2 separate regions of the Homo sapiens genome follow, and region 2 is linked to region 1. The links come from fine-mapping of genetic effects on gene expression. Tissue or cell type: whole blood. Region 1 holds a variant in brackets; the other region holds the start of a gene. All regions are shown on one strand. Distances are between the middles of the regions.

Region 1 (2,838 bases):
AATTAGCCAGGCGTGGTGGCGCGTGCCTGTAATCCCAGCTACTCAGGAGGCTGAGGCAGGAGAATTGCTTGAACCCAGGAGGCAGAGGTTGCAGTGAGCCGAGATCCTGCCAGTGCACTCCAGCCTGGGTGACAGAGCGAGACTCTGTATCAAAAAAAGAAACCAACTTCAATGTCCTATTTTTTTTTTTGATAGAGTTTCACTCTTGTTGCCCAGGCTGAAGTGCAGTGGCACAATCTCGGCTCACTGCAACCTCTGACTCCCGGATTCAAGCAATTCTCCTGCCTCAGCCTCCCGAGTAGCTAGGATTATAGGCATGTGCCATCATGCCCGGCTAATTTTTTGTATTTAGTAGAGACGGGGTTTCACCGTGTTAGCCAGGCTGGTCTCAAACTCCTGACTTCAGGTGATCCACCCACCCTGGCCTCCCAAAGTGCTGGGATTACAGGCATGAGCCACCACGCCCGGCCTCAATGTCCTATTTTTAATGTTATAAGGTATTTCTAATAGTCTGTGCAAAGCGCCAAAGCCGTGACACATAGCCTGGTACAAAAGGAGAATATTTTTCAATATTTAGGATACATGCTTATTTACTCAATAACTTTACAACTTTGACACGTCATATTACATTTTTCAATAAAATTTTGTTTAAAAAAAAAGATGATGAGAAGTGAGTGGATCTAGGAATATGAAAAGCTAACACGTTTCGTGGAGGAGGTGAGAATGAGACCATCATCCCTCCAGGGACAGAAAAAAATCATGGTCAGAGGAGATGGAGAAACAGGAGAGGGGCAGACTAGGGATGACAGAATCGGCTGTTAGGGCTTGTAGAGCAAAGGATGAAGAAAACAGCTACAGAGAGCAGGGACCTTCCTCCCGCATCATGGCACACACACACACACACACATGCTTAACCCAAAGGGTCACTGGACTCCAAGTCCAGATGACGTGGGTTCTAGCCCCAGACCTGCCATTCAGACTCTATGTGTCACAGGGTGGCAGGGTGAGTCATAGAAAGGGAGCTGGGTTCATGGCAGGTTCTCTAAGAATTATGAAGCTCAGCAAGTCACTTCAACTACTAAGCCTGATAAGGAAAATGAGTCAACTTGAACCCTTTTATCGCTAACAGCCTGATTCCAACTCCTAACCCCAGGGTCCAGGAGTAACCCATAGACAAGTGAATGGAGATAAGGAGACAGCTCTGGGGAAAAAAGCAGGAGGCAAGAGAAGCAGGAGCCTGGGGGAGCTGACTGCAGTCATCCGTAATACATCTGGCTATGTCCGGCAGGTCCTCCTGCCCCAGCCAGAGGAGAGGGCACTGGGGACCAGGTGGGCCAAGGCTGAGGCTGAGGGGGCAGACAAGTGCCGTCTGCACCTGAGGGC[T/G]CTGACAGAGGAGACTGCAACACCATTTCCCCTTCATCAGCTCAAGTCCAGGAAAGGGAAGTCAGCAGTCGTCACACCGTTTCAGGTCATGACCCTGTCTACCTTCCTACCCCTGTCACCAGCTCCTTCTCCTCTTTCCCCGAAAGTCTCTTCCTCCTTTGGCTCCTCAGAACAGGGAGACTGCAATTAAGATGAATAAGACTAAGGTGGCAGGGACAGAATCCCCAAAGATGGTGAGAAAGGGTCACTTCTGGATTCCAGGTCTTATGCTGGAGTGGGGGAGAAACAAGGATCGGAGAGCTGGAGTTCCACTCGCACATCCTTCAGCCCCTCCCTGGACCTCAGTCTCTCCTTTACTAAAGCTGGGAGGATTCCCTGTGCCCCTCTCTGCAATCATGTACCAATAAGACCATATAAGGCTTTGCATTTCCAGGAGAAACTGGCCTGAGCCTCATCATCCTCCACCACCACCAGACAGCTGATGGGAGGCAGGCAGATGAGGGTTCATTGCCGCCAGGTGGTAAGTGGGACTCAGCAAGTGGAGTGGGGGATGGGGAGGTTAGTGATGATGGTGACTAAAGCAGAGAAGGAAAAGGAGGTTCAGACAGTGGAGAGGGCAAGTCTCCCCAAACACTGTGAGGTAGGTCCCCTGAAGGGGTGGCATCATGTCTTCCCCCTTCCACCCTAACATGGCCATGGGCACATAGCAGACGCTCAGCAACACCCATGGAGGAATTCACCAGAACGTTTGTCCCTCTTAAGACCCCGTGAAGAATGGTCACTTCCATGGTGCAGCCAAGGGGCATGGGAGTCTGTACCCTCTCCCAGCCCCAGGACCTCCCAGAAGCTTGGGTGATGACTTGTATCCACCCCCTACCCTCTTCATGATGCCCCATCCAGCTCTCCAGACATTCCTTCATGCAACAAACATTTATTGAGCTCCTGCCTACTTGCTCCAAGCAGGATGATGGGCTAGACATGGAGCATACATAAACGGGCAAGATTCAGTCCCTGACCGCAAGGCACTTACAGTCTAGTTGGGAAGGGAGACACAAATGTACAAGAAAGTATGGTGCAACAGCAACACTCCAGCAGATGTTATAGTGTGCTACGGGAGCCCAGGAGAAGGCGGAGTGATCAATTTTGGGGAAGACAAGATGTGGCAGAAGCGTTCACAAAAGTAATGGTGTCTGAGCAGGGTTCTAAGGGATGCATAGGAGTTCTCTGGCAGATGGTTGGGGAAACTTTCAGGCTGAGGAAATATCTCAAGCAGACATGTAGAGGTATGAAAGACACAGGGCAGAGGTGCCGGGGCATGGCTCTGTGAGGGCACGGGTATGAGGCTAGAGGAGCCCTGGGTCTGCCTTTACTTACCCGGGTCTGCTCTAGCCCTAGCCCTCGGGAGTCAGGGAAGGGGAATTGCCTAAGTAACAAAGGGGGCTTTTGGGTGGGGTT
Region 2 (2,500 bases), 29 kb after region 1:
GAGCCTGGGGTGCTAGGATGGCTCCACTGGGCAGGGACGCCAGTCCAGTAAGCTGGAGGCTCCTCATTTTGCCAGCAGTGAGCTCTACCTGGGACAGGGGTGTCAGTTCCCACCCTCAGGTCTGAGGCTCTGCCTGCCCAGTGAGCACCTCAGCACCCTGGACCACCCTTCCAGGCGCAGGCACCAGGGAAGGGGCAGAGGGACTAACCGACCTGTAGGGATTGAGGGTGCAGATGGTCACTGCGGGGAAGACGAGCTTGTCCGAGTTGAGGTTGATGTTGAGGCTGACGGGGTAGCTGAAGTACTCTCCGAAAAGCAGGCCGAATTGCCAGTACATCATGCCAAAGGTGCAGAGCCACAGCACTGCCCAGAAGGCCGTCTTCATGCGGTTGTGCTGGGAGCACACCAGGCGGATGGCGCCGTGGATGGTGGTGTTGTTGCAGAAGAACTCGAAGAGCTCTCGGTAGGAGCGGTGGAACTCGATCAGGGCCTCCTCCTCCGCCGTGGGCTGCTGGGGCGCCGCAGGTTCGGGGCCCAGCCCCTGCTCCTCACGCTTGTTCCCCTTCATGAGCCCTGGAGTGGACTGTGGAGGGCTAGAGTCCTGCTCCTCCAGCTTGTTCCCCTCCATGAGACCTGGTATGGGCTGCAGAGGTCTAGGGTCCTGCTCCTCCAGCTTGTTCCCCTTCATGAGCCCCGGAGTGGATTGGGGAGAGCAAGGGTCAGGGTCAAGGCTGAGCTCTGGGCCCTGAGTGCCCTCTCCCATCACCCCTGGAACCCGAGTGAGGCTGCCCCTGGCCATGCCCATGTCCCACCCTGCGCCCACATTCTCCCACTCCTCCCTCCCTCCTCCACCTTTCCTGGAGCCAGCAGACCTGCGGGAGTTGGGGCCAAAAGTGCCGGAGCTGGGCTTCCCTAGAACGGCCTCTCCTCTGCTTCCCTGATAGGGCCACCTTTCGAGTTTTGTCCTAGCACCTCCCTTTCTGTCTCTGCCCCCTTCCTTTGGTCTTCTTCCTCCAGGATCTGTGTCTCAGCTCCTGCCTCTCACTCCCTCTCTATCTGCCTTCTGTTTCTCTTTGGGTCTCTCCTGCTCTCCTCTTTCTGGCCTGCCTCCTCTCTCTAATCCTGCCTCTCTTCCTCTCCCCCCCTTGCCTTGCCCCCTCTCACTCTAGGCCCTCAGCTCCAGCCTCTGGCCCTGACCTCGAGCTGTGTCCTGATTCTGTCTCTGCCCCAGGACTGCAGGGCTCCAGGAGGTCTGGGCTGCCTCCAGCTTCCCACTCCCAGGTTGCGGCTGGACTGGGACTGGTTCCTTTCCAGTTGAATCTGGCAGCCAAACCTCTCCTCCCCCTCACCTGACAGGTGCAGCGGCCTGGCTGGGGAGCCCGCCCGCTGGCCGGCCAGGGATGGAAGCGACAGGAATCTCATTAGCATCTCAATTAAAGGTGAGCAGGGCGGGGGGAGGGGCTGAGGAGGAGTCAGAGCCGGGAGTTTTCCGAAGGAAGGAGGGCTCCCGAGGGCAGGTGAACTGGGAGTACTGGACCTGAGAAGGCGGACTCTGGGCAGGGGCTTTAGACGCAGACAGGCAAGGAGGCTGGGGGACAGGATGGCAGGTGAGGGGCAAAGATCTGAACAAGTAGAAGGATCCTGAGCCCACAGCTAGGAGGGCAACACAAGGAGAAGGGGCCAGCCAGGCTGAGAGGGCCTGGGTGGGGAACCGGGAGGACAGGAGGGCAGAAAGAGGGAGACAATAGAGAGGGACAGCGAAGGACAGAGAGATAGGGATGGAGGAGGGGCACTGAGTGAGTAGAGGCAGGTGGGGGGCAGTGGTGGGGGCAAATAGAAGGAGCCAGCACCAAAGGGAGTCTGTCTCCAGGAAGGAGAGCAAGGGGGGAGTCCCAAGTGTGCTTCCAGGAGCTAGAGGCTCAGCAAGTGGGCAGCCCTCCAAGGGCACCCACAGGTCAGCCTCACCCTCAGGCCCTGCAGAGAAGAGAGAAGAGGTCTCTGCAGGTCTCCTCCCCGCTCACTAAGTGGGAGCAGCGCACTCAGGTGGGATGCGTCTGCCTCCTCCTGGTCCCTCCTCTTTCCTGCTGATTCCTCGCCACCCCCTCCAACCTTGTCCAGACCCGGGAGGGGCCCAGGTGAAGCTGGGGGCTAGGCGGGGCCCTAGGACATTCTGTTCTTTTTTACACTGTTGGCTGCCAGGCCAGGAATGTGTAATCGCCCCTGCTGTGGTCACAGAGTTGCAGGAATGTGGGCAACCAGAGGCAGCGCGAGGGCCACGCAGGACACTGTGGACACAGACCCGGAGCCCAGGAAGAGGCAGGGAAAGCAGGCACTGAAGGTGCAGGGAGGATGTGGCCAGCGCTGGAAAGGAAGAGGGTGGGCATGGCACACGCCTAGACAGGCCCTGGGAGGAGGAGAAATTCGTTGATGGGCTATATTTTCTCCAAAATCTCTTTCCAAACTTAATGCAGCAAAAGGATAAGGAGTGGAGTGCCAAGTG

Evidence for each region. PIP is the estimated chance that this variant, and not a neighbour inherited with it, causes the effect.
Region 2: it holds the start of SCNN1A, and the variant in region 1 is fine-mapped to the expression of SCNN1A in whole blood (TOPMed, PIP above 0.99).

The regions. Positions count from the first base shown.
Region 1 is chr12:6,344,549-6,347,386 of GRCh38, forward strand. SCNN1A (sodium channel epithelial 1 subunit alpha) reads right to left here. Exons shown (of 13, transcript NM_001038.6): 13 at 2,299-2,838. It overlaps LOC112268088 (a long non-coding RNA gene), which reads left to right and starts at 1,256. Exons shown (of 2, transcript XR_002957396.2): 1 at 1,256-1,468; 2 at 1,817-2,530. It also overlaps the pseudogene RN7SL391P. RefSeq lists an enhancer at 1,329-1,829. The variant T/G (reference allele first, on the strand shown) is at 1,384.
Region 2 is chr12:6,374,156-6,376,655 of GRCh38, forward strand. It overlaps SCNN1A (sodium channel epithelial 1 subunit alpha), which reads right to left and starts at 1,408. Exons shown (of 13, transcript NM_001038.6): 1 at 1,350-1,408; 2 at 213-682. The coding sequence starts at 628. It also overlaps a transcript of LTBR not described here. RefSeq lists enhancers at 1-419, 2,236-2,500.